Linked DNA regions of Homo sapiens: region 2 is linked to region 1. The links come from fine-mapping of genetic effects on gene expression. A gene starts in region 1. The other region holds a variant in brackets. All regions are shown on one strand. Distances are from middle to middle. Region 1 holds the start of KRTCAP3 (keratinocyte associated protein 3). Region 2 overlaps PPM1G (protein phosphatase, Mg2+/Mn2+ dependent 1G).

The links. PIP is the estimated chance that this variant, and not a neighbour inherited with it, causes the effect.
Region 2: its variant is fine-mapped to the expression of KRTCAP3 in whole blood (INTERVAL, PIP 0.96).

The regions. Positions count from the first base shown.
Region 1 is chr2:27,435,181-27,448,009 of GRCh38, forward strand. It overlaps KRTCAP3 (keratinocyte associated protein 3), which reads left to right and starts at 7,201. Exons shown (of 7, transcript NM_173853.4): 1 at 7,201-7,260; 2 at 7,399-7,583; 3 at 7,662-7,721; 4 at 7,894-8,100; 5 at 8,218-8,352; 6 at 8,769-8,881; 7 at 9,006-9,117. The coding sequence starts at 7,233. The coding sequence ends at 8,876. It overlaps NRBP1 (nuclear receptor binding protein 1), which reads left to right. Exons shown (of 18, transcript NM_013392.4): 7 at 1-47; 8 at 1,573-1,656; 9 at 1,867-1,925; 10 at 2,082-2,180; 11 at 4,586-4,718; 12 at 5,223-5,328; 13 at 5,472-5,522; 14 at 5,625-5,760; 15 at 5,947-6,000; 16 at 6,087-6,150; 17 at 6,387-6,442; 18 at 6,528-7,079. The coding sequence ends at 6,632. IFT172 (intraflagellar transport 172) reads right to left here. Exons shown (of 48, transcript NM_015662.3): 41 at 12,632-12,742; 42 at 12,335-12,454; 43 at 11,080-11,175; 44 at 10,749-10,808; 45 at 10,565-10,663; 46 at 10,116-10,269; 47 at 9,834-9,925; 48 at 9,197-9,341. The coding sequence ends at 9,252. RefSeq lists an enhancer at 7,336-7,878.
Region 2 is chr2:27,388,412-27,404,694 of GRCh38, forward strand. All of the region lies in intron 1 of PPM1G (protein phosphatase, Mg2+/Mn2+ dependent 1G), which reads right to left. It also overlaps the pseudogene FTH1P3. Among named protein-coding and RNA genes, the nearest start is that of PPM1G, 13 kb to the right of the region's middle. RefSeq lists an enhancer at 6,893-7,394. The variant A/G (reference allele first, on the strand shown) is at 9,549.

The DNA of each region.
Region 1 (12,829 bases):
TGACACCATCTTCATCCAGCACAACGGACTCATCAAGATTGGCTCTGGTGAGGGGAGGGAGAGGTTCTGGGCAGGGGAGCCTCGGGAATTTGGGAACCATGGGGGTAAGATGAAAGGAATGGGGGATAACAGAGCAAAATTCTGAGGTGTGGGCTGGTGAGAAGAGAAAGGACCTTGCTAGGAGTAATTAATAGGAGAGGCCAGTTAATTAGTGGAGAGGGGGTAGGATATATAATCTTACACCTTTTTGAAGGGAAAATTGGGGTTAATACAGAGATACTGATAAGAGGCTGGGAAAGGGCAAGAGATAGGTTTGAGGTTTGATTTGAGTCCTGGGGCCAGACCCTGCCAGAGGAGGTTCCAGGCTGTTCCTGCTGTGAGTGCTTTCGTTTGCTGTGTATTGTATGCAGTGTACAACATTTCTGTGTGCTGTGTCTGTGTGGTATTTGTGTGTCCATTTGTCTGGGGCTTGGCTGCTCCATCGCTCACAACTTTTCTCTGTTTTCCTCCCTCCCGCTTACGGGCTGCTCTGTTCCCAACAGTCTTTCATAGGATTTTTGCTAATGGTGAGAGCTCCCTCTGCCCCACTTGGGGCTCTGTTTGTGCTCCCTCTGCTCCCTTGGCGGCTGCCCAGTGCATGCAGTCGTGGGAGCAAACCCTCTTCCCCTATCTTCCCTGCCTAATTATGCCTGCTTAGCTTCTGCCCTGCCAGCCCTCCGCCTGCTTGCCCCTTCATAACCTGCTTGTTTCCTGTGGATTCTGCCTGGCTGGCCACTTACCTCCTGGATTCATGTTCTCCCTCATCATCAGGCTAGTTCCCAGATCATACTGTGCTCCCAGATTCTCTGTGACTTGTAGTCATTGTTTATGATCTGAGTGAGTCCAAATTGGGCCTGGTCCTGGTTCCTCGTTCAGCTCTGTGGCAGACAGTGTTGAGGAATAAGGGGGTAGAACAGGAGTCTAAAATGTTTTGGTGGATTAAAAGTGGAACAGATTCAAGGGTATTAGCTCAATTCTGAGCTGTTTTGAGTTTCACTCAGCAAAGGTGGGTAAGAAGGAGGCTACCTCCTGAGCTGTATGTTAATACTTCTTATCCTTATTTATCCAAGTTCCTGAGGTCTCCAATTGTCCCAGATTAGGAAGGGCTGCCTGTGTTTTTATGTTATTTGCAGGGTGGATGAAAAAACTAAAACCAAATATTTTCATGTGAGCAGGGATTAGAGGTACCTGGGATTTAGGGAAGGTGAACGCAGTACAAGTGAAAATTTTTCCTTAAACTTCATTGCTTCTAGACCAGCCTGAAGCCCCTGTGTATCTGTTAATTTAGTCTGGTGCTTTTGTTGCTCCTGATTTAGGGACATTAGATGAGAAGCAGTAGGCCTAAGAAAGGGGAGGTAGGTGGCATCCATGTGTGGTCTGTAGTTCAGGACAGGAAAGGGAATATGTTTGTGCCTGTTGAGGGTCATCAGAAAGGAGACTTCAGGAGAGAATTTGGCTTTTGGGGCCTCTCTCTGGAGTGAGACTATTCTTCATTGATGATGGTCAGATTGTGGGTGTCTCCCCTACTCCCAGTGGCTCCTGACACTATCAACAATCATGTGAAGACTTGTCGAGAAGAGCAGAAGAATCTACACTTCTTTGCACCAGAGTATGGAGGTGAGCCTTCCTGCTTTCTCTGCCCTGTCCTCATCCCCCTGCTTTTGCACCTTATAACTTGAGGTACAGAGGCAATATAACTGAAACTTCTAGGCCTTCTCTACCAGCATACAAAATATTTTTCTTTTCTTTTTTTTTTTTCCTAAGGCATTCCTGCCAACCCTAGCCCCCAATCCTCTGATTAACCAAAGCCTTCTCTGTTTTCCCTAGAAGTCACTAATGTGACAACAGCAGTGGACATCTACTCCTTTGGCATGTGTGCACTGGAGGTGAGGGGACTGGAGGGGAGGGGGGAAAGGGGTCAGATGAGAAGATGGAATTGGGAATGGAGGGAAGACAAGTAAGGCGCTGGCTTGGAGGGAGTGATTGTGGGAGCACTGAAGTTCTTAGGTGTCTACTTTTTTTTTTATTCTTCCTCACTGAAGATGGCAGTGCTGGAGATTCAGGGCAATGGAGAGTCCTCATATGTGCCACAGGAAGCCATCAGCAGTGCCATCCAGCTTCTAGAAGACCCATTACAGAGGGTAAGGATCTTCAGGATCACTCCCTCCTCAACTGACCTTCAAATGTCTTCTGGTTTTTCTTCCTTTGTACCCACTGGGTATATGCTCCTAAGAGCTAGGGAACATAACAGAAAGGACACGAAAAATCTATAAACATTTTCTTAGGAGGTGCCTACCATGTTTTTGCATAGAAACACACAGGTAAGGGGGTTAAGATGGATGATGCTGGGGTTAAAAGTTGTGTGTTGGAAGCCGGGCATGGTGGCTCACGCCTGTAATCCCAGCACTTTGGGAGGCCGAGGCGGGCGGATCACGAGGTCAGGGGATCGAGACCATCCTGGCTAACATGGTGAAACCCTGTCTCTACTAAAAATACAAAAAAAATTAGCCAGGCTTGGTGGCGGGAGCCTGTAGTCCCAGCTACTCAGGAGGCTGAGGCAGGAGAATGGCATGAACCCGGGAGGCAAAGCTTGCAGTGAGCTGAGATCGCGCCACTGCACTCCAGCCTGGGCGACACAGGTAGACTCCGTCTCAGAAAAAAAGAAAAAAAAAAAAGTTGTGTGTTGGCTGGGTGCAGTGGCTCACACCTGTAATCCCAGCACTTTGAGAGGCTGAGGCGGGTGGATCACTTGAGGTCAGGAGTTTGAGACCAGCCTGGCCAACATGGTGAAACCCTGTCTCTACTAAAAATACAAAAATTAGCTGGGCATGGTGGTGTGTGCCTGTAGTCTCACCTACTCGGGAGGCTGAGGCAAGCTTGAACCCGGGAGGCGGAGATTGCAGTGAGCTGAGATTGGGCCACTGCACTCCAGCTGGGGCAAGAGAGCGAGACTGTCTCAAAAAAAAAAAAAAAGTATGTTAATTTGAATGTGTCTACATGGAGGTAAATTAATTTGATGGTTACTTCAGGCCATTGCTGTATACTCTCAGACAGCCATTTTTATATTTTTAAGCACATCAGTCAATTTAAATTAAACCAGTTGTTTGGGATTTTATATTTATACAGTTTTAGTTAGGGACGGTGGCCTGAAATAATGAGCTAAGATTTAAAAGACATAAGGTTATGAATCAGTTGATAGACTATAGTAAGCAGAGCCTGGGCAGGAAGGTCCAAACAAGAACAGTTTGTAACTCATTAGATAAGTATAGTAGGGAACAGGAGAGAAAAGAAGACTAGTGGGAAGTCAGGAGGATAGTGTGGAGTAAGTTTCTACTTCAACATTGAGGTGGAGTATTCAAGTGAAAGATTAGGTATGTGACCTTGTTAGCCTTCAAGGTTAAAAGCAGGAAAGCAGGTTAATTGTCATGGGACATGCAGGAGGTAGAAAAGGAGGCGGTGGTGGAACATGGTGGCTCATACTTTTAATCCCAGCACTTTTGGAGGCTGAGGTGGGAGGATCACTTGAGCTCAGGAGTTCGAGACTAGCCTGGGCAACGTGGTAAAACCCTATCTCTATGAAAAAATAAAAATTATCTGGGTATGGTGGCACATGCCTGTGGTCCCAGCTACTCTGGAAGCTGAAGTGGGAGGATTGCTTGAGCCCAGGAGGTTGAGGCAGCAGTGAGCTGTGATTGTGCCACTGTACTCCAGCCTGGTTGGCACAGCAAGACCCTGTCTCAGAAAAAAGAAAGAAAGAAAATAAGGCAGAATCGTTAGAGGAATCCTGGGAAATTCGGTGAATTCAGTGATTGTGGGCAAAGGAAATTGTGATACTAGGCTTGTGAAATAAAAAAATGGTGAATATTGATCACATTGGGTAAGTTTGGGAAGAGAGAAGCTAAATTTGGCAAGATTTAGAAAAGAAGATAGGCAGTGAGTTGACTAATAAAGCAGAGAGGTAGAAACTAAGGAAAAAGAAAGTGTGGGGCCGGGCGCGGTGTCTCATGCCTGTAATACCGGCACTTTGGGAGGCTGAGGCGGGTGGATCACGAGGTCAGGAGATTGAGACCATCCTGGCTAACATGGTGAAACCGTCTCTACTGAAAATACAAAAAATTAGCCGGGCATGGTGGTGGGCACCTGTAGTCCCAGCTACTCGGGAGGCTGAGGCAGGAGAATGGCGTGAACCCGGTAGGCAGAGGTTGCAGTGAGCTGAGATTGCGCCACTGCACTCCAGCCTGGGCGACAGAGCGAGACTCCGTCTCAAAAAAAAAAAAAAAAAAAATTGTGAACATTAAAAAAGAAAGCTTGTGGTTGGAGAGCAGAAAAATAATTAAAACCAGAAAGGCAGTGGATGGTATCTTTCATATAATATCTTACAGTTTTTGAAGCCCTTTCAGGTGCATTTTTCAATATATTGTTTTCTCAGCAAGTGCTGAGCACCTACTATGTACAAAGCCTTGTGCTAAGTAGAATGAGAGCTATAAAGATGAACACACTGGGGGCTTGCCAGATGCCTGCTCCAGTTCCTTGTTTCCTTTTCTAGGAGTTCATTCAAAAGTGCCTGCAGTCTGAGCCTGCTCGCAGACCAACAGCCAGAGAACTTCTGTTCCACCCAGCATTGTTTGAAGTGCCCTCGCTCAAACTCCTTGCGGCCCACTGCATTGTGGGACACCAACGTGAGTCGTCTTGGCCCTATGGGGAATAGTCTTCCAATCTGGAGCCCTGTAACTATCACTGGCATGCTTGTTTTCCTCTTTATTTCCAAAGGGATTCTTTTTTTTTTTTTTTTTTTTTTTTTTTTTTTTTTTTGAGACAGAGTCTCACTCTCTCTCAGGCTGGAGTGCAATGGCTTGATCTCAGCTCATTGCAACCTCCAGCTCCCAGGCTCAAGCGATTCTTGTGCCTTAGCCTCCCGAAGAGCTGGGATTACAGGCATGTGCCACCATGCCTGGGTAATTTTTGTACTTTTAGTAGAGATGGGGTTTCGCCATGTTGGCCAGGCTGGTCTTGAACTGGCGTCAAGTGATCTGTCCGCCTCGGCTTCCCAAAGTGCTGGGATTACAGGCATGAGCCACTGTGCCAGGCCTCCAAAGGGATTCTTTACCCCTTTGCCTGCATGCCTTCTTTGACATTTAATCTGACTATCCCTTCATAATATCCCACTCCATCATGCCCTCCAGACATGATCCCAGAGAACGCTCTAGAGGAGATCACCAAAAACATGGATACTAGTGCCGTACTGGCTGAAATCCCTGCAGGACCAGGAAGAGAACCAGTTCAGACTTTGTGAGTAACTGAGAGGGTCTGAAAGGGGCAGATTGGTCACGACCACTCTTGAGGCTCTGTAAACTGTCCATTCTCTGGGAATGCTTGAATTTGCTATTTTGCTTGTTTCTTTCCTTCCATCTCCTTTCTCTTTTCTCGTCCAGGTACTCTCAGTCACCAGCTCTGGAATTAGATAAATTCCTTGAAGATGTCAGGTGAGAGCAGAGTGAGAAGCAGGCTTTCTTGAGGAAGCAGGCGGGGTTGGGTATCCTAAGGCGTTCACAGAGCCCATGTGACCTGTCTTCATCTCCCTCCAGGAATGGGATCTATCCTCTGACAGCCTTTGGGCTGCCTCGGCCCCAGCAGCCACAGCAGGAGGAGGTGACATCACCTGTCGTGCCCCCCTCTGTCAAGACTCCGACACCTGAACCAGCTGAGGTGGAGACTCGCAAGGTGGGGGCTGTGTGGGTGTGGATTGTCTCCATGGTTGTGGTGGAAGGGAGAGAGGACATCTCAAATAAGGCTCTATCCTTTAGAGAAAATGCTCCCTAGCAGCCATGCCCTATGGGCTCGAAAGACGTCTAGGTATTGGGTTTTTTATGGACAGGTCTCTAGAGTGACCCTCTCTTCCCTCCCTAGGTGGTGCTGATGCAGTGCAACATTGAGTCGGTGGAGGAGGGAGTCAAACACCACGTAAGGCTCAGGGCTAGGGTTGCGCAGGGCTAGTAGCCAGAGGGTAGGGAAGAAAAGTCTCATTTTCTGACTGTCCTATTCTCCAGCTGACACTTCTGCTGAAGTTGGAGGACAAACTGAACCGGCACCTGAGCTGTGACCTGATGCCAAGTGAGTCTCTCCTTTCCCTCAGAGGATGGAGAGTCTATGAGCCTTATCTTTTAGGGACATATTCAGGGGTGGGGGAGGTGACAAGGCAGTAACACATTGACTCACATAGAATGACTATCTTAGACCCTAAAGCAGTGGGTGGATCTGACTGACAGTTTAGCCCTAGTGGGGCTGTCTGAAGGGCCCCAGGTCCCTCAGTCCCGTACTGTACTCACCCCCTCCTGTTTCTTTGTCAGATGAGAATATCCCCGAGTTGGCGGCTGAGCTGGTGCAGCTGGGCTTCATTAGTGAGGTGAGGTTTCTGCCTTCATCTGCCCTGGCTGCCCCCATGCCTTCTCTTCTCTCAGCCCCCATCTTACTGAGCTCTTCTCCCCCAGGCTGACCAGAGCCGGTTGACTTCTCTGCTAGAAGAGACCTTGAACAAGTTCAATTTTGCCAGGAACAGTACCCTCAACTCAGCCGCTGTCACCGTCTCCTCTTAGAGCTCACTCGGGCCAGGCCCTGATCTGCGCTGTGGCTGTCCCTGGACGTGCTGCAGCCCTCCTGTCCCTTCCCCCCAGTCAGTATTACCCTGTGAAGCCCCTTCCCTCCTTTATTATTCAGGAGGGCTGGGGGGGCTCCCTGGTTCTGAGCATCATCCTTTCCCCTCCCCTCTCTTCCTCCCCTCTGCACTTTGTTTACTTGTTTTGCACAGACGTGGGCCTGGGCCTTCTCAGCAGCCGCCTTCTAGTTGGGGGCTAGTCGCTGATCTGCCGGCTCCCGCCCAGCCTGTGTGGAAAGGAGGCCCACGGGCACTAGGGGAGCCGAATTCTACAATCCCGCTGGGGCGGCCGGGGCGGGAGAGAAAGGTGGTGCTGCAGTGGTGGCCCTGGGGGGCCATTCGATTCGCCTCAGTTGCTGCTGTAATAAAAGTCTACTTTTTGCTAAAAGCGTCGTGTGTTCGCGCCTTTCCCGCCAGGGGGAGCGGGCCCGGGGCGGAGGCGGGGCCCAGGTGGGAGGGGGACCCGGGACGGAGGCGGGGCCCAGGTTGGGGCGGGGCCGGGCCCAGGTACAGCGGCCCTGCGGCTGGCGCGGCGGACGGGATGAGGCGCTGCAGTCTCTGCGCTTTCGGTAACTTCCGGGCCCTGGCGTCTCGTCTCCTTACCCTGGGGCTACCCTTGCCCCGTCCTACTGCCCGCGGTTAACCCGCCGCGAGCCGCCTCTCCCCTCCCCGCCCGACTCAACCCTGCCCTCCCCCGTGCTTTGCAGACGCCGCCCGGGGGCCCAGGCGGCTGATGCGTGTGGGCCTCGCGCTGATCTTGGTGGGCCACGTGAACCTGCTGCTGGGGGCCGTGCTGCATGGCACCGTCCTGCGGCACGTGGCCAATCCCCGCGGCGCTGTCACGCCGGAGTACACCGTAGCCAATGTCATCTCTGTCGGCTCGGGGCTGCTGGTGAGCGCGGCAGGCGACCCGGGCGGGGGCCGGGCTCCCGGAGAGCCCAGCAGGCCAAAGGCTTTGTGTCTTCCACAGAGCGTTTCCGTGGGACTTGTGGCCCTCCTGGCGTCCAGGAACCTTCTTCGCCCTCCACTGGTGAGAGGGACTTCCCTGGAGCTTTTAACGAGTAGGCTTGAGTCAGGGAAATGGGGGCTGACTGAGCTTGGTCTTTCAATAGATTGGAGGAGCCTCAGAGAAACTGGGTGTCTAGTCACTGGGAGAGTTAGCCAGGCCCAGGCTGCTCACCCTGATCTCCTGTCCCTGCCAGCACTGGGTCCTGCTGGCACTAGCTCTGGTGAACCTGCTCTTGTCCGTTGCCTGCTCCCTGGGCCTCCTTCTTGCTGTGTCACTCACTGTGGCCAACGGTGGCCGCCGCCTTATTGCTGACTGCCACCCAGGACTGCTGGATCCTCTGGTACCACTGGATGAGGGGCCGGGACATACTGACTGCCCCTTTGACCCCACAAGAATCTATGTGAGCACATTCTCTTCCTTCTTGTGGTCTACAAAGCCTTGGTCCTGCCCTTTTAATTTCCCCTATTTGCTGCACTTGCCCTACTCCCTCCTACTCCCCATCCTTCTTGCTTTTCAGGATACAGCCTTGGCTCTCTGGATCCCTTCTTTGCTCATGTCTGCAGGGGAGGCTGCTCTATCTGGTTACTGCTGTGTGGCTGCACTCACTCTACGTGGAGTTGGGCCCTGCAGGAAGGACGGACTTCAGGGGCAGGTAAGGAAGGCAAACAGGAAGGGTTCATTCCACAGAGACTGGCTGTGTTGAAAAGATGCTGACCGGCCGGGTGCGGAGGCTCACACCTGTAATCCCAGCACTTTGGGAGGCTGAGGCAGGCGGATCACTTGAGGTCAGGAGTTTGAGACCAGCTTGGACAACATGGTGAAACCTCGTCTCTACTAAAAATACAAAAAATTAGGTGGGGTGGTGGGCGCCTGTAATCCCAGCTACTTGGAAGGCTGAGGCAGGAGAATCGCTTGAACCCGGAAGGCGGAGGTTGCAGTGAACCGAGATCACGCCACTGCACTCCAGCCTGGGCAACAGAGTGAGGCTCCGTCACAAAAAACAAAACAAAAAAAAGATGCTGACCTATCATTCAGGGCGAGGGTGTCTAACTCTATCTTCTTCTGCAGCTAGAGGAAATGACAGAGCTTGAATCTCCTAAATGTAAAAGGCAGGAAAATGAGCAGCTACTGGATCAAAATCAAGAAATCCGGGCATCACAGAGAAGTTGGGTTTAGGACAGGTAATGGGCCTTGAAGGTGGTGGCCCGGGTAAGAGCGGGGACAAGGAAGTGCTCTTAGAACTGGGTCTAGGTCTTGCCATGCTGCTTTCCCCTCTGACCTGGGTTGGTTCTCCCCTCTGTCCAGCAGGTGCTGTTCCGAGACTCAGTCCTAAAGGGTTTTTTTTCCCACTAAGCAAGGGGCCCTGACCTCGGGATGAGATAACAAATTGTAATAAAGTAACTTCTCTTTTCTTCTACTTGATTATGATTCCTTTTGGGGAAAAGGCACTGTGTGGTGTTGGGAATGACTTTGATCAAAGAATACAGTGGTCTCAATTATTTATAAAACTTTAATGAGGGAGAGGCCCTAACTCTTCCTCAGCTCTACCAACTACTGAAAGGAAAAGCTGGTGCTGGGGAGCCCTCCACACCACTGACTGATGAATTTCAGCACGTCCTGGCACACTGGGCTGTGGGAGGTCTGTGAGCAAATGGAAGAACATGAGAGGAACTTGTTAATGCTGGAAATACAAAATCAGCTCCATCGCAGGCTTCAGGGTCTGCATCTGCCTTCCTGTAATCCCACCCATCTTTCTAGTGTGTATGTGGGTTTTTTGTTTGTTTTGAGACAAAGTCTTGCTTTGTCGCCCAGGCTGGAGTGCAGTGGCACAATCTCAGCTCACTGCAACCTCTGCCTCTCGGGTTTAAGCGATTCTCCTGCCTCAGCCTCCTGAGTAGCTGGGATTACAGGTGCACGCCACCAGACCCGGCTAACTTTTGTATTTTTAGTAGAGACGAGGTTTTAACCATGTTGGCCAGGCTGGTCTCAAACTCCTGACCTCAGGTGATCCGCCCACCTTGGCCTCCCAAAGTGCTGGGATTAAAGGTATGAGCCACTGCACCCAGACTTGTTTTTTTTTCTTTTTTTAGTGCTGCCCTCTCTGCCTTCATTCTCCAAGTCCTCCTCTCTAACCTTGATGGCCATAAGGAATTTATTCCAGTTGTCCTTGTTAGCAGCCTTCCCTGGCCGCTTAAATTCAATTTTGTTCCTCAGAATGGGGTATCCTGTGGAGGAAGAAAAAATGATGAACTGGGGTTTGAGAGAGATTGAGGAGGGAAAAATGAGGAGCAGCCTGGGGGGTAGAAAGCACAGTCCTGTCTTTTGTACCCTTTACTGAATCCTAGTAAAATTAAGTTTATTGATCCTGCTGCTTTCTACCCACCACAGGATCTGGGGTGCTGTAGGCTTCTATACCTGTAATAAGGCAGGGCAGGGCTCGAACACCAGTGCTCGCTGCCACTAGGGAGGCCTCGTAGGCGCCACGCTCATCCCGAGGCAGAACCTGCTCCAGCCGCTGGTCCATGGAGACTGTAAGCACCCAGTCTCGAACCTCTTCTCTCTCAGCCTCCTGGAAAGGACAAGAAGGGAGTGGTAGCTTCACACAGGGCAGGGCAGGACAAGTTGGGGTGGATGGGTGAGGAGGGGGTTTGCTAAGCCCTCATCCTGTATACCAGCTTTTAGCCACGAATCCTCCTTGGATTGGGGGATGCAGTCACAGCCTTTTCTTTCTATTTTGCTTCTACTTTCACTGAAAAAACAGTGAGGGCTGAGGTCCTTCCAAAGATGGCAGCACAAAGATATTCTCCCTCCTCAAGGCACTCACACTGGTGAGGCCTTCCGGTTTTCCAACCCTGTGCCCTTACCGGTACATGCTGCTTAGCTGGGAGTGGCACCTCAAAGGGAATGTCTGTATCCTGAAAATCAGAGTGGTCAAGGCCATCTAGAGTCCCTTCCTCGATTGCCTGCAGTAGAGTGGGCAACCATGAACTAGGCACAGCTCGCGACTGGCAAAAACCTCCACCCTCGGGGCACAGCTTCCCTACTCACATCGGTCAGGTCCAAAAAGCGATTGAGGAAGATGAATGCCATGTTATCCCAGCCAACTGCCTGCAGCAAAGAAGAGTTGCAAATGGGAGTGAACAAGCTGGGTTTGAATGCTACTTCTCTGGGATCCAGATGCAAATGGGAGTGAGCAAGCTGGGCTTGAATGCTATTTCTCTGGGATCCAGGGAGAAAAATCCAGGAAGACATAGGAGGACTACATCCTCCGTAACATCAGCCCTACACTCAGCTTTCCTCTACCAGAGCAGAAGGGATATTCTATTTTCCAACCTTTAACTTCCTCCTATCTGCCCCACCCTTCCTTGTCCCAGCTCACCTTGGCAGCAATGCCTGCTTCATAGAAGGCTTTGTCTACAGGTAGTAGCTGGGTGTGACGCAAGAGTGAAACAGAAAGCCTGGCAGCCACGGTTTCCTGGGATTAAAGTCAAAGCATTATGAATATGGCACTAAAGTGACTGAGCTACCAGACCAATGATCCTGTAAGGCAGCCACAGAACTAAAAAACAACAATTATTATTAAACTGCTCTGGATTCTCAAGCTGTTCTGGGTCTTAGTTTTTTTTTTCTTTTTCTCTGAACAAGACACCTGGGCCTAGGTTCAATTCTTTCGCCCAGGCTGGAGTGCAGTGGTGCCATCTCAGCTCACTGCAACCTCTGCCTCCCGGATTCAAGTAATTCTCGTGCCTCAGCCTCCTGAGTAGCTAGGACTACAAGCGCACATTACCATGCCTGGCTAATTTTTTTTTTTTTTTTTTTTTTTTTTTTTTGAGACGGAGTCTCGCTCTGTCGCCCAGGCCAGACTGCGGACTGCAGTGGCGCAATCTCGGCTCACTGCAAGCTCCGCTTCCCGGGTTCACGCCATTCTCCTGCCTCAGCCTCCCGAGTAGCTGGGACTACAGGCGCCCGCCACCGTGCCTGGCTAATTTTTTGTATTTTTAGTAGAGACGGGGTTTCACCTTGTTAGCCAGGATGGTCTCGATCTCCTGACCTCATGATCCACCCGCCTCGGCCTCCCAAAGTGCTGGGATTACAGGCGTGAGCCACCGCGCCCGGCCAACCTGGCTAATTTTTATGTTTTTAGTAGAGATGGGGTTTCACCACGTTGGCCAGGCTGGTCTCGAACTCCTGGCCTCAAGTGATCCACCCGCCTCGGCCTCCCAAAGTGCTGGGATTACAGGGGTGAGCCACCACACCCACCCACCTAGATTGTTTCTAAGGTTCTTTCCACTTCTAGAATTCTATCATCCAAGTACATGAAATAAATATACAGTGAACAGTCAAAAATAAGCCCAGAATATGTGTACATTATAAGAGGTGAATAAAGAAATCATGGGATTTGGATGTTTAAACATAATGAGGCTGAGGCTGTGTGGGCACAGAGCCCTAAAAAGGTCGGAAGAAGAAAACCTCAGCAAGGGCTAAAGATTTGTTTAGACAGAAGAGAAGCTGAAAGACAGGTGGGGAGATTCAAGAGCCCAAGCTGAAGAATCCAGAACGTGAATCAATTCAGCTTTATACATTTGCAGATGAGCCCTTCTGACTGAGTGTTCCTTCGACCCCCTACATCTCACCAGCTGTTTGACACTCTGGGCTGCAGAGCGCGTGGCATAGTAATGAGCGATCAGCAGCATCGTCTTGAACTCCTCATGGGCTGGAGAGTTTGCCTCACTGGACTTCACCAGGTTTTCACACTAGAGGAGGGAGACAGCACAGCCTGGCTCAGGGGTCAGAGGAGTGCCAGGGCCATAGAGTGGTCTCTGATAGCCACCTGGCAGAGGAAGGTAAAATACATCTGAGAATAAAGGTTTATGTGCATCAAAGAAGAGATGAGGACAAGGACAGACGGAGCAGCCCTTTCGCTTCCTCACCAGGTTGAAGAGGACATCTCGAAGATCAGCCCAGCTATGATAGGCCTCGGCACAGTTGGTTCCAGGAGAGCTCACCATGTCAGTGAAGATCCTTTTGTAGATATTGAAGTTCTAGAGGTAGAGGGAAGAAGGGGATCTGAGAAGGGCATAGCTAGAAGAGAAAGTCACTGGAAGTGGGGCCAAAGGGAGGAGAAACAG
Region 2 (16,283 bases), 45 kb before region 1:
ATAAATAAATAAATAAAATAAAAAACAGTTGTAACCATCTAAATTTCCAGGAATAGATTACAAATGGTACGTAACTCCAGTGGAAATGTAGCTGTTAAAAGCAAATATATGTTAATTTGGAAATGAGTTCACAATATCTTAAGTGGTTAAAAGCAAAAAGTTAAAAAAGTATCTACATGTGAGGACGGCCACAGTGGCTCACTCCTGTAATCCCAGCACTTTGGGAGGCCCAGGCAGGCGGATCATGAGGTCAGGAGATCGAGACCATCCTGGCTAACATGGTGAAACCCCGTCTCTACTAAAAATACAAAAAATTAGCTGGAGGTGATGGTGGGCGCCTGTAGTCCCAGCTACTTGGGAGGCTGAGGCAGGAGAATGGCGTGAACCCAGGAGGCAGAGCCTGCAGTGAGCCGAGATTGCGCCACTGCACTCCAGCCAGGGCGACAGAGCAAGACTCCGTCTCAAAAAAAAAAAAAAAAAATTATCTACATGTATATGTGAGTCTGGAAGATCACATAGCAAACAACCACAGAGGGTGAGATTTGGGTAATAATTTCTACTTTTCGACATTCATTTTTAAATTTTTGTACAATAAACCACATTGTTCCATTCTGAATAAGGACAACAAACACACCTAAGAACTGGCCTCAAGTTGCCATTCTACCATATACTGCATGATCTCTGGTCAGCTACCTTATGGTGTGCCTCAATTTTATCCTCTGTGATGTGGAATTACAATATCCACCACATCCACATCATCACAGAACTGTTGTAATGATGCAAAACACATAAAAGCCCTTTGTAAACTGGAATTTGCTACATAAAAATATATATATATATACACACACACATACACATATATGTATATTCTGCTCTGAAATTTAGCACCCATTTCACATTTTTCTTTTTTGTTCTTTTTCTCAAAGAGGACCACCCACAATAAAGATTCGTCTTACACCTTGAGGTCTCAGTCCTGAGAACTATCGCACAATTACCCTCTCCTTCACTTCTTGGTGAGGCTTGGGATCTATATTATGATTTGGAACTGTTTCACCTTCCCTAAACACTTTAATTTGCCCCCTTTACATGTCTGCTCATAACCTTTACCCACACCTTTGCTTCTCTCTATCCCTTACTGAGACAGAGCCAAGTATTTCAACATGGTCTCTTAGAAATCTAGAAAAACTCACCCAACCTTGTATAACCCCACCAACTGATTTATGCCTGAATCAGAACTACTAAGTTTGCTAGTCATAAAATGTTATGAGATTGGCTAGGTGCGATGGCTCACACCTGTAATCCCAGCGCTCTGGGAAGGTAGGCAGGAGGACTGATTGAGATCAGGAGTTGGAGACCAGCCTAGGCAACATAGCAAGACCCCGCCTCTACAAAAAAATTTTAAAGTTAGCCAGGCATAGCAGCATGCACCTGCAGTCAGTCCTAACTACTCGGAACACTGAGGCAAGAGGACCACCTGAGCCCAGGAGGTGGAGGCTGCAGAAAGCTATGATGCACCACTGCACTCCAGCCTGGGTGACAGAGGGAGACCCCATCTCTAAAACAAAACAAAGTTATAGGATCACATTGACTGTGGTAATTACTTCATTTCAGCATCTTGTTTTCTTTTTTTTTTGAGATGGAGTCTCCCAGGCTGGAGTAGAGTGGCGCGATCTAGGCTCACCATATCCTCCACTTTCCAGGTTCAAGCAATTCTCCTGCCTCAGTCTCCTGAGTGGCTGAAATTACAGTGGGCACCTGCCACCACGCCCAGCCAATTTTTGTATTTTCAGTAGAGACGGGGCTTCACCATGTTGCCCAGGCTCTTCTCAAACTCCTGAGCTCAAGTGATCTGCCCAGCTCGGCCTCCCAAAACGCTGGGATTACAGGCGTGAGCCATTGCAACTGGCCAAACACAGAAATTATCCTCTCTTCCTAGATTAACATTTTTTCTTAAACTCCTGATCTCAAATCCTTCTCCTTCAAGGTCTTACTACACAGAGAATGTAATAACCTTAACAGCAATCCAAATAGCCGTTTTGGCAATGGCTCATGCATGTAATCTCAACATTTTGGGAGGTCAAGGCAGGAGGACTGCTTGAGGCCAGGAGTTCAAGCCTGGGCAACATAGTGAGACCTCATCTCAACAACAACAACAACATCCGTAAACAGCCATTCTGCAGACTTCATTTCCCCTAGCCATTATGTCAGATTAAACAGTACAAACCATGTCAGTTTTTTTTTTATTTTTCAATGTTTATTTTAGAATCACAGAATACATGTGTAAGTTTGTTAGAAAGGTATACTGTGTGATGCTGAGGTTTGGGGTATGACTGAACCCGTTTCCCAGGTGCTGGGTATAGTATCAAATAGGTAGTTTTTCAGCTGTTCCTCTGCCACACAACCCCCACCCCCACCCTGCCGCACCACCACCTCTAGTAGACCCATGTCTATTGTTGCCATCTTTACATCCATGTGTACTTGATGTTCAGCTCCCACTCTCACTGCGTGAGAACACGCAGTATTTGGTTTTCTGTTTCTGTGTTAGTTTGCTTAGGATAATGCCCTCCAGCTACATTCATGTTGTTGCAAAGACATTATTTCATTATTTTTAATGGGTGCATAGTATTCCATGATGGCTATGTACCATATTTTCTTTTCTTTTCTAGTCCGCCACTGATGGGCACATGAGTTGATTCAATGTTTTTGCTATTGTGAATGGTGCCACAATGAACATACAGGTACATATGTTCTTTTGGCAGAATGATTTATTTTCCTTTGGCCGTATATCCAGCCATCAGATTGCTGGGTCTAATGGTAGTTCCACTCTTAGTTCTCTGAGAAATCTCCAAACTGACTGTGCCTACGCTAAATTAATTTACACCTTCACCAACAGTGTACAAGTGTCTGCTTTCCTCTGCAGCCTCACCAACGTTTCTCATTTTTTGACATTTTAACAAAAGCTGTTCTGACTGGTGTGAGATGGTATCTCTTTGTGGTTCTAATTTGCATTTGTCTGATGATTAGAAATGGGCGTTTTTTCATGTTTGTGGGCCACATGTACGTCTTTTGAGAAGTATCTGTTCATGTCCTTTGCCCACTTTTTAAGGGGGTTATTTGCTTTTTGCTTGTTAGGTTCCTTATAGATTTTGGATATTAGACTTTTGTTGGATGTATACTTTGTGAATATTTTCTCCCATTCTATAGGTTGTTTACCCCCTTGATAGTTTCTCTTGCTGCATGTCACTTTTCTTGAAAGATCTCTTGGATTCTGTGTAGTTCTATACCTCTGACTGCCTGTTTCTACAGGATGTTCTTTTTTTCTTTCTTTTTTTTTTTTTTGAGACAGAGTCTAGCTCTGTTGCCAGGGTGGAGTGCAGTGGCGCGATCTCGGCTCATCACAACCTCTGCCTCTCGGGTTCAAGCAATTCTCCTGCCTCAGCCTCCTGAGTAGCTGGGATAACAGGCACGCGCCGCCACGCCCAGCTAATTTTTGTATTTTTAGTAGAGACGGGGTTTCACCATGTTGGCCAGGATGGTCTCGATCTCCTGGACCTCGTGATCTGCCCACCTTGGCCTCCCAAAGTGCTGGGATTACGGGTGTGAGCCACTGCACCCGGCCAGGATGTTCTTTCTCTCTATACCTCAAACTTAACACATGTAATCAGGAAATCAGCAGTCTGCAAAAAAAAAAAAATCAAGAGCTTCCCCTACAGGTCTTATTTCTGTAAATGGAATCTTAACTCTCCCAGACAACACTTAATACCAGAGTCATGCTTAACTTCCTGGCTGTCTTCCACCATCCATCACTGAGTCCTGCATGCAGTCCTTCATCATGTTGTTGTTCCTGGATTACTTTGTTTTGTTGGTTTGTTTTGTTTTTTTTTTTTTTTTTTTTTTTTGAGAGAGAGAATGTCTCCCTGTCACCCAGGCTGGAGTACAGTGGCATGATCTCAGCTTACTACAACCTCCGCAGCCCAGGTTCAAGTGATTCTCATGCCTCAGCCTCCCAAGTAGCCGGGATTACAGGTGTGTGCCACCATGACTGGCTAGTTTTTATATTTTTAGTAGACACGGGGTTTCACCATGTTGCCCAGGCTGGTCTCAAACTCCCGACCTCAGGTGATCCTCCCGCCTCAGCCTCCCAAAGTGCTGAGATTTAGGCATGAGCCACTACGCCAGCCCACAGTACATTTTTTTTTTGGGGGGGGGGAGGGTACCAAATTTATTTATTTGAAGGAATGGTACAAATCAAAGAACTTAAGTGGGTGTCTTGGAACAACTTATAGAAAAGGTAAAGGAAACCCCAACATACATGCGCTGCCTTGGTGACAAGGTAAGTCACCCTATGGCTATGGGGAAATTAGCCTGAGGCTTAGCTTTCATTATCACTGTCTCCCAGGGTGTGCTTGTCAAAGAGGTATTCTGCCACGCCAGATTCGGGCGCTCCCATCTCGTGCATGTTGGTCACGTGGTCACCCAATTCTTTGATGGCCTTCACTTGTTCATTCAGGTAATGTGTCTCAATGAAGTCACACAAATGGGGGTCATTTTTGTCAGTGGCCAGTTTGTGCAGTTCCAGTAGTGACTGATTCACATTTTTTTCCAAATGTAATGCAAAATGCACAATTTTTTCCAAATGTAATCCATCGCATTCAGCCCGCTCTCCCATCGCATTCTCCCCGCACAGTCTGGTTTCTTGATATCCTGAAGGAAGATTCGGCCACCTCGTTGGTTCTACAGCTTCATCAATTTCTCAGCATGTTCCCTCTCCTCATGAGATTGGTGAAGAAAGTATTTGGCAAAGTTCTTCAAAGCCACATCATCGCTGTCAAAGTAGTAAGCCACGCACAGGTAAATGGAGGAGGCGTAGAGCTCCAGGTTGATCTGGCGGTTGATGGCGGCCTCTGAGTCTTGGTGGTAGTTCTGGCGCACCTGCGAGGTAGACGCGGTCGTCATGCCGGCGACTAAGGAGAGGCGGCGGCAGCGGCAGTGGTGGCTACGCGGCGCTGGAGCTGCGGCGGGGGCCTTGGGGCAGTCCGAGGGCATGGTGAAGAGGTGACGGAGGGCTGGCTATGGGCGGCCGGCCGGGGTGCAGGACGAGCGCCGGGTTCCGTCCAAGCACTGTTGAAGCAGGAAACCCCGACCACTCTCGGCGAAGAACGTCTCAACTTTTAATTATCATATTTTTTTCTGAGAAAGAGTCTCACTCTGTCGCCAGGCTGGAGTGCAGTGGCGCAATCTTGGCTCCCCGCAACCTCCATCTCCCGGGTTCAAGCAATTCTCCTGCCTCAGCCTCCCGAGTAGCTGGGAGTACAGGTGCGTGCCACCACACCCAGCTAATTTTTTATTTTTATTTATTTATTTTTTTAGAGACAGAGTCTCACTCTGTCGTCCAGGCTGGACTGAAGCGGCGCAATCTCGGCTCACTTCAAGCTCCGCCTTCCGGGTTCACGCCATTCTCCCGTCTCAAAACTCCTGAGTACCTGGGACTACAGGTGCCTGCCAAGACGCTCGGCTGATTTTTGTATTTTTAGCAGAGACGGGGTTTCACCGTGTTAGCCAGGATGGTCTCAATCTCCTGACCTCGTGATCCACCTGCCTCGGCCTCCCAAAGTGCTGGGATTACAGGCATGAGCCACCGCGCCCGGCCTAATTTTTTATTTTTAGCAGAGATGGGGTTTCACCATATTGGTCAGGCTGGTCTCGAACTCCTGACCTCAGGTGATCCGCCTGCCTCGGCCTCCCAAAGTGCTGGGATTACAGGTGTGAGCCACCGCACCCACCAACAGTAAACTTTAGTAATAAAAATTAGTAAACTTTTCCTTTCTGGAGTAGTAATTTTTAAAAAATAATCACTATTTCATCTTACCATATGCTTTCATCTTCAGGAAACACACTATAATGGCTTTAAGCTGTTTCTTAGTTCATAAGTGATAGCTCAGAAGCATCTGAATTATTTTCCCTGAATTTCACTACCTGGCCTAGTGCCTACATAGGCTAAATCATTTCTGATCATTCACATGCTCAAGATCTTCTTGTGGCTGGGCACGGTGACCCCCCTGTAATCCCACCACTTTGGGAGGCCGAGGCAGGCGGATCTCTAGGTCAAGAGATTGAGACCATCCTGGCCAACATGGTGAAACCCCATCTCTACTAAAAATACAAAAAAATTAGCCAGGAGTGGTGGCACGCGCCTGTAGTCCCAGCTACTTGGGAGGCTAAGGCAGAAGAATCACTTGAACCCGGGAGGCGGACCAGGAGGCGGAGGTTGCAGTGAGCCGAGATCGTGCCACTGCACTCCCGCCTGGTGACAGAGTGAGACTCTGTCTTAAAAAAAAAAAAAAAAAAAAAAAGATATTCTTGCAACTGGAATGATATTTCATTTTCCAGGAGTTTGACACAATTTAGGAGGTTTTTCCTGCACACAATGGCCACCCATTTCCAATTAAACATTCATAAAAACACCACAACCACCCACCTCACTACCTCATACCCATTAGAATAGGAACTATTAAAAATAATAATAATAAAAATAAAACCAGGCACAGTGGCTCACGCCTGTAATCCCAACACTTTGGGAGGCCAAGGCGGGTGGATCACTTGGGGTCAGGAGTTTGAGATCAGCCTGACCAACATGGTGAAACCCCGTTTCTACTAAAAATACAAAAAATTAGCTGGGCGTGGTGGTGCATGCCTGTAATCCCAGCTACTTGGGAGGCTGAGACAGGAGAATCACTACTTGAATCTGGGAGGCAGAGGTTACAATGAGCCAAGACCGTGCCATTGCACTCCTGCCTGGGTGACAGAGTGAGACTCTGTCTCAAAAAAAAAAAAAAAAAGAAAGAAAGAAAGAAAGAAAAACTTAATTCTAGCACCTTGGGAGGCTGAGGGGAGCAGATCACTTGAGGTCAGGAGTTCGGGACCAGCCTGGCCAACATGGCAAAACCCCATGTCTACTAAAAATACAAAAATAACTGGGTGTGGTGGTACACCTGTAATCCCAGCTTCTCAGGAGGCTGGGGCATGAGAATCACTTGAACCTGGGAGGCGGAGGTTGCAGTGAGCTGAGATCATGCCGCTGCACTCCAGCCTGGGCAATAGAGTGAGACTCTGTCTCAAAAACACAAAACAAAACAAACAAACAAAACTGGTTGGGCATGTTGGCTCATGTCTCTAATCTCATTATTTTGGGAGGCTGAGGTGGGAGGATCACTTGTGCTCAGAAGTTCAAGACCAGCCTGGGTAACACTGTGAGACTCTGTCTCTACGAAAAAATTTTTTAAATTAGCCACAAGTGGTGGTGCACACCTGCAGTCCCACCTATGTGGAGGCTGAGGTGGCAGGACTGCTTGAGCCCAGAGGTTGAGGCTGCAGTGAGCTATCACATTGCACCACTGCACTCCAGCATGAGCAAGAATAAGACCGTCTCAAAAAAAAAAAAAAAGAAAAAGGAAAAAAGAAACCATTAAAAAAAAACAGATAATAACAACTGCTAGCAAGGATGTGGAGAAACTGAAATTCTTGTGTACTGTTGGTGGAAATGTAAATGATACAGGTGTTGTGAAAAACAACATGGAGGCTGGGCACAGTGGCTCACGCCTGTAATCCCAGCACTTTGGGAGGCCAAGGCAGGTGGATAATTTGAGGTCAGGAGTTCGAGACCAGCCTGGCCAACATGGTGAAACCCAGTCTCTACCTAAAAATACAAAAATTAGCCGGGTGTTGTGGCGAGCACCTGTAATCCCAGCTACGTGGGAGGCCGAGGCAGGACAATCACTTGAACCTGGGAGGTGGAGGTTGCAGTGAGCAGAGATGGTGCCACTGCACTCCAGCCTGGGCGACAGAGCAGGACTCCGTCTCAAAAAAATTTTTTTTAAATTAGGCAGTCACTAAAAGACAAATACCATATGATTCCACTTACAGTATGAAGTATCTAAACTAATCAAATTCATAGAGACTGAAAATAGAATGCTGTTTGCCATGAGCTGGGGGAAAGAGAATGGGGACTCATTTAATGGGTATGGAGTTTCAGTTCTGTAGGATGAAGAGTTCTGGAAACTGGGTACACAACAATGTGAATGTATTAAATACTACTCAACTGTACATTAAAAAAATTTTTAAGGCCGGGCGTGGTGGCTCATGCCTGTAATCCCAGCACTTTGGGAGGCCGAGGCGGGCGGATCACTTGAGGTGAGGAGTTAGAGACCAGCCTGGTCAACATGGAGAAACCCCGTCTCTACTAAAAATACAAAAATTAACTGGGCATGGTGGCGCATGCCTGTAATCCCAGCTACTCAGGAGGCTGAGGCAGGAGAATCTCTTGAGCCCAGGTGGCAGAGGTTGCAGTGAGCCAAGACTGCAATCATTGCACTCCAGCATAGGTGACAGAGCAAGACTCCGTCTCCAACAAAAAAAAAAAAAGAAAAGAAATGACTAAGATGGTAATTTTTATGTTATGAAAACTTTGTTTCCCTTGAAACAGAGTTTTGCTCTTGTTGCCCAGGCTGGAGTACAATGGCACGATCTAGGCTCACTGCAACCTCTGCCTCCGTGGTTCAAGTGATTCTCCCTCCTCAGCCTTCCAATTAGCTGAGATTACATGCATGCACCATCATGCCCAGCTAATTTTGTATTTTTAGTAGAGATGGGGTTTCTCCACGTTGCTCAGGCTGGTCTCAAACTCCCGACCTCAGGTGATTCACCCGTCTTGGCCCCCCAAAGTGCTGGGATTACAGGCGTGAGCCACCATGCCCAGCCACAATGAAAATTTTTAAAGAAAAAAAAAGCCAAAAACTTCCCACAAAGAAGAGCCCAGGCTCAGATGCCTTTATTTGTGAATTCTACCAAACATTTACAGAAAAATTAATACCAATGATTCACAAACTCTCCCATCACATAGAAAAGAAGACAACACTTCCCAATTCATTCTATGAGGCCAGCATTACCCTGATTCTAAAACCAGACAAAGACATCACAAGAAACTACAGACCAATATCTCTTATGAATATAGACACAAAAATCCTCAACAAAATAGTAGCAAACTAAATCCAGCACCATATAAAAGGATAATACACATTGATCAAATAAGACTTATACACCAAAAAAATGCAAGGTTGGTTTAACATTCAAAAAAATCACTTAATGCAATATAGCGTATCGGTAGACTAAAGAACAAAACCCTATGATCATCACAATAGGTATTATAAAGGCACTTGACAAAATTCAGTGCTCATTAATGATAAAAAGACTCAATGCCAGTCTGGGCAACATAGTAATAAGACCCTGTCTCTATAAAAAATTTTAAAAAATTAGCCCAGTATGGTGGTGCATGCATGTAATCCCAGCTACTAAGAAGGCTGAGGCAGGCGGATCTCTTGAACCTAGGAGTTCAAGGCTGCAGTGAGCTATGATTGAGCCACTGTGCTACAGCCTGAGGGACAGAGCAAGACTGTCTCTAAAAAAGTAATATAAAATAGACTCAACAACCTAGGAATAAAAGGGAACTTCCTAAACCTGATAGAGTACATCTATGAAAAACTCAGTCAGCC[A/G]GGCACGGTGGCTCATGCCTGTAATACTCCCCCAGTTGATCTACAGATTCTGCATAACCCCTATAGAAACCCAGGTGCCTTTTGTGCAGAAATTGACAAATTAATCCTAAAATTTAGATGAAAAACAAATTTTAAAAACATTTCAAAACGTACTAAAAAGCTACAGTAACCAAGATAGTGTATTACTGGCATAGGGACATGTAGACCAATGAAATGGACTTGAGAGTTCAGAAATAAAACCCTCACATTTACGGTCAATTTATCTCTGACAATGATGCCAAGATAATTCAATGGGGGAAAAGAACAGTGGTTTAAACAAATAGTGCTGGGACAACTTGATATCCACACACAAAAGAATGAAGTTGGATCACTCCCTCATACCATTCACAAAAATTCACTCAAAATGGATCACAGAAACAGCTAAAACTATAAAACTCTTAGAAGAAAACCTAAGAGAAAATTCTCGTGACTTTGGGTTAGGCAAAGCTTCTTAACAAAAACAAACAAACAAAATAGACAAATTGGACTTTATCAAAAGTAAAAACTTTTGTTTCAAAAGACACCATCAAGAAAGCAAAAAGAGGCTGAGTGTGGTGGCTCACGTCTGTAATCCTAGCACTTTGGGAGGCCCAGGCGGACGGATCACGAGGTCAAGAGATCGAGACTATCCTGGCCAACATGGTGAAACCCCGTCTCTACTAAAAATACAAAAATTAGCTGCGCATGGTGGCATGTGCCTATAGTCCTAGCTACTCGGGAGGCTGAGGCAGGAGAATGGCTTGAACCCGGGAGGCAGAGGTTGCAGTGAGCCGAGATCATGCCACTGCACTCCAGCCTGGCAACAGAGCGAGACTCCGTCTCAAAAAAAAAAAGAAAAAAAAAGAAAGAAAGCCAGCAAAAAGAATCAGGGTGTAGTGGCTCATGACTGTAATCCCAGCACTTTGGGAGGCTGAGGCAGGCAGATCACCTGAGGTCAGTAGTTCAAGACCAGCCTGGCCAACATGGTGAAACCCGGTCTCTACTAAAAATAAAAAATTAGCTGGGAGTGGTGGCACACACCTGGGTCCCAGCTACTCGGGAGGCTGAAGCAGGATAGCTTGAACTCAGGAGGCAGAGGTTGCAGTGAACCAAGATCGCGCCACTCCATTCCAGCCTGGGTGGTCAGAGCAAGACTGTCCCCCGACCAAAACAACAACAACAACAACAACAACAAAAACAAAACAAAAAAAGAAAGCAAAAGTCCACAAAAATTGGAGAAAAGATTTGCAAATCATATATCTAACAAACTTGTATCCAAAACACATAAAGAACTCTTACACATCAAAAGACAAAAAGACAATCCAATTAAAAATGGACAAAGACTTTGAACAGACATTTCTCCAAAGAAGATACACAAATGTCCAATAAGCACATAAAAGATGTTCAAACATAAGGCCTGGCATGGTGGCTCTAGCCTGTAATCCAGCACTTTGGGAGGCCCAGGGAGGCGGATCCTTTGAGGTCAGGAGTTCGACACCAGCCTGAACAACATGGTAATGCCCTGTCTCTACTAGAAATACAAAAAATTAGCTGGGTGTGGTGGCATGTGCCTGTAATCCCAGCTGCTAGGGAGGCTGAGGCAGGAGAATCGCTTGAATCTGGACAGAGTGAGATTCTGTCTCAAACAAAAAGTTCAAACATCATTAGCCATTTAGCCATCAGAGAAATACAAATCAAAACTACAATGAGATACCATCTCACACCCACCATTAGTTATTATAAAAAAGGTGGATAAGTGTAGTGAACATGTGAAGGAACTGGCATCCTCATATATTGCTGGCAGGAATGTACGACGGTACAGCAACTTTGGAAAACAGTTTAGCAGTTTCTCAAAATGTTAAACACGTAGTTACCATATGACCCAGCACTTCCACTCTTTGGTATATAACCAAGAGATATGAGGACATATTTCCACACAAAAATTTGTACATAGTATCACTATTTATAATAGCAAAAAAAAAAAAAAAAAGTGGAAATCCAAAATGTCTATCAACTAATGAATGGATAAACAAAATGTGACAAATCCATACCATGGAATATTATTCAACCATAAAAAAGAACGAAACACTGATTGATTCATGACACAACATTGATGACCCTTAAAAATATTACGCTTGGCCGGGCGTGGTGGTTCATGCCTGTAATCCCAGCACTTTGGGAGGCCGAGGCAGGCGGATTGCCTGAGCTCAGGAGTTCGAGACCGCCCTGGGCAACACAGCGAAATCTCGTCTCTACTAAAATACACACAAAAAATTTAGCCGGGTGTGATGGTGGGTACCTGTAGTCCCAGCTACTCGGGAGGCTGAGGCAGGAGAATCGCTTTAACCCAGAAGGTGGAGGTTGCAGTGAGCTGAGATCGCATCACTGCACTCCAGCCTGGGCGACAGAGGGAGACCCTGTCCCCAAAAATAAAAAATTAAAATTAAAAAATTATGCTTAGGCACAACTATGATACATCAACTGAAAAATATCAGGCTGGGTGTGGTGACTCATGCCTGTAATTCCAGCACTTTGGGAGGCTGAGGTGAAAAGATTCCTTGAGGCCAGGGGTTCAAGGCCAGCCTGGACAACACAGTAAGACCCTGTCTCCATGAAAATAAATGAATAAACAACAATAATTAAAACTGACCTCCTGGAGATAAGAAAAAGAGTTAACTAGGAGATAAGAGAAAATTCAAGAATTGTTAAGTCATTAATTTGAGATGGAGTTCTGGGTCTTTTGCTTCCCTTCCATCAACTAAGTGAGGAAGGTTCCAACAGAAACAAATGGGAGTGCCTAAAAGAAAACTAGCATCTCTTTCCTGGTTACACAGGCAACAGACTTGGTGATCTGCCTGAGCTCTGTCTATCTGAACAGAAGGAGAGAATTTTAAAAAGTGCCCACTGGAGCCTGAACCATCCTGCTGGTATCCATCCAAAGGAGTCCAGCAGTATGAGGTCAAGGATACACAGCAGGTGGTAAAAGCCACAGAAAAGTCTAAAAACCAAAAGTGGAGATCAAGTCCCTCTGGGCCAGGCCTGGCTATTGCTGCAAACACAGAGATGGTGAGTGATAACTGGATATGAGACTGGAGTTTTAAAGAGATTTCTGATTCTATTAAGCTCTGTAAAATAAAACCTGCAAGGCACTGATCTAGAAAGAAGCAAAAGAACCTTGGGTCAGCAAAATACTTATTCTTAAATCTACTACAACAATGTATGTGTGATTTTTTTAAAAAGAAACTTACAGGCAAAGCTGAGGGGTAGAGGGAATACTTGGGGTGGAGAGTAATTTACTCTTCCAGGGGCCAACAAGCTTTAAAGTCAATTTCAAAAATACACATGCTTAGTAAAAGCATCCAGATATAAAAGGTAGTGTATTTAGAATTCCATTTATAAAATGTTCAGAATAGGCAAATTCATAGAGGTCATGTAAATTAGTGGATGCCAGGGGTTAGTGGACGGAAGATAGGGAGTGACTGGTAAAGAGTACAGGGTTTCTTTTTGGGGTTCTAAAACTGATTGTGGTGACAGTTGTACAACTCTGTTTGAATACACTACAAAACAGGCAGGCACGGTGGCTCATGCCTGTAATCCCAGCACTTTGGGAGGCTGAGGCAGGCAGATCACTTGAGGCCAGGAGTTCGAGACCAGCCTGGGCAACATGGTGAAACCCTGTTTCTACTGAAAATATAAAAATTAGCTGGGTGTGGTGGCGTGAGCCTGTAGTTCCAGCTACTCAGGATGCTGAGGCAAGAGAATTCGCTTGAACCTGGGAGGTGGAGGTTGCAGTGAGCTGAGGCTGCGTCACTGCACTCCAGCCTGGGTAACAGAGCAAGACCCTGTCTCGAAAAAAGAAAAAAAGAAGAAAAAAAAGAAAATATACTAAAAGCCACTGAATTATACCCTTAAAATGAATGAATTATACCCTTAAACCCACTGAATTATACTCTTAAAGTGAGTTCATATACTGTATGGTATATGAACCATATGTGGTATGAACCATACAGTATATGAACTCTATCTCAATAAAGCTGATTAAAAAGGAACCTGTAAGAAATAAATAAAATAAAAAGGAACCTGTATACACATTTTCAAATACTAAATATGATTAAAAGGTGTTGTTTTTCTGCTAGCATTGGGTCAAAAAGGAAAAAAAAGTTGATATACTTCATCTCTGAACTAGATCTAGAAAGAAACAAAAACAACTACACTGAAATCATACTCTGTCTACAAAATGTCATTAAACATCTTAAGCTCAGTTCTAAAGATTTGTTTCCAGATAATACAATGTCAAGAACTACTGATCAGACCTGTATAAATTTCTATGTTCAAATTCAAGCCCTTACCTCTCAAAATTCAATTCTAAGACTAATAACCCAATAGAAGATTAGAGGTTAGGGAAACAGTAGTAACAACTGCTAAGGAATCAGACAATAGAACTTTGTGTAAAATATCCTTGAAATCTTGAGGAATACGTTCTGATTGTATTTTCCAGTTGCTTGAGAACTTATAAGGCAATGGTATAAAATATAAAATAATTTCTAGACCAGGCATGGTGGCTCACACCTGTAATCCCAGCACTTTGGGAGGCCGATGTGGGTGGATCACGAGGTCAGGAATCGAGACCATCCTGGCTAACATGGTGAAACCCCGCCTCTACTAAAAACACACACAAAAAATTAGCCAGGCGTGGTGGCGGGCGCCTGTAGTCCAGCTACGCGGGAGGCTGAGGCAGGAGAATGGCATGAACCCGGGAGGCGGAGCTTGCAGTAGCTGAGACCGCGCAACTGCACTCCAGCCTGGGTGACAGTGTAAGACTCCATCTCAATAAATAAATAAATAAATAAATAAATAAATAAATAAATAAATAAATAAAATAAACATAAATAAAATTCCTCAGCCTGGGCAACACTGCAAGGCCCTATCTCTACAAAAAAAAACTTAAAAAAAAAAAATTAGCCAGTCATGGTGGCATGTGCCTATATTAGGCTGAGGCTGGAAGACCCCTTGAGCCCAGAAGGCTATGCAGTGAACTATGATCGAGCCACTGTAAAGGCAGATAAGTGTAGTGAGGATGTGAAGGAACCGGCACAAGAAATCCCATACTCCTTACCACTCAAGCATGGGCAAGAGTGAGATCCTGTCTCAAAATAAATACATAAATAATTTAAAAAATAAAAAGGCCGGGCACAGTGGCTCATGCCTGTAATTCCAGCACTTTGGGAGGCTGAGGCGGGCAGATCACTTGAGGCCAGAAGTTCAAGACCAGACTCGCCAGCATGGGAAAACCCCTTCTCTACTAAAAATACAAAAAAGTTAGCTGGGCATGGTGGCGAGTGCCTGTAATCCCAGCTACTTGGGAGGCTGGGGTAGGCAAATTGCTAGAACCCAGGAGGCAGAAGCTGCAGTGAGCCGAGATGGCACCATTGCACTCCAGCCTGGGCAACAAGAGCAAAACTCCAACTTAAAAAAATAAAAAGAAAATAGTTTCTCCATGCTCATGGGCATACATGTGATATAATTCTATACTAGCTTTGAACTGTGAATGGGTACTGCATGCTAATCAAATGCAAATAATGCGTTTTTATAAAAGTTGCTAACCACATTCTAGACAAAGAAATTCTGGCCAGGCGCAGTAGCTCACGTCTGTAATCCCAGCACTTTGGGAGGCGGAGGCGGGCAGATCACCTGAGGTCAGGAGTTCAAGACCTGCCTGACCAACACAGAGAAACCCCATCTCTACTAAAAATACAAAAAATAAGCCAAGTGTCGTGGCACATGCCTGTAATCCCAGCTACTCAGGAGGCTGAGGCCGGAGAATCACTTAAACAGAAAGGCCAGTGAGCCGAGATCACACCACTGCACTCTAGACTGGGTGACAGAGACTCTGTCTAAAAAAAAAAAAGAGAGAGAGAGAGAAATTCTGACCTGGTTTAGTAAGTAAAAAGCGCTTTAAGCTATTGGCTATTGATATGAGATGCTAATCTGAAGATAAGAAAATAAATGTTTTTCAACCTTCAATGCCCTAAGGTAGAACCCCATAGCATACTTGTGATATTTCTTTTTATATTTTTTCCATTAATTTAATGACTGAAACAAATATGCAGGTATTTTAAGAATTTTCTGCTCAATACTATCTTTATAGTCAATTCTAGATGACCCCTTGACCACTAATAAGCCAGCTTCTACACAGCAATAAATAGCCAGCCTCCTCAAAATTATACTATAGATATTGACACTGCCTTTAATAAAAGGAAAATATGATTTATAGCACAAAAAATTCCTGGCCGGGCACGGTAGCTCACATCTGTAATCCCAGCACTTTGGGAGGCCGAGGCAGGTGGATCACAACGTCAGGAGTCTTGAGACCAGCCTGGCCAACATAGTGAAATCCTGTCTCCACTAAAAATACAAAAAAAAATTAGCTGGCCTGGTGGCAGACTCCTGTAATCCCAGCTATTTGGAAGGCTGAGGCAGGAGAATCACTTGAACCCAAGAGGCGGAAGTTTCAGTGAGCCGAGATCAAGCCACTACACTCCAGCCCGGGTGACAATGCGAGACTCCGTTTCAAAAAAAAAAAAAATTCCTAACTCTCCATAGAAAGCAGTTTTGTCACTTCCAGAGAACCTCACAACCAAATATTAAATGTACTCTTGTCCCCTTAAGACTACATCAACTGATGGGCCAGGCATGGTGGCTCACGCCTGTAATGCC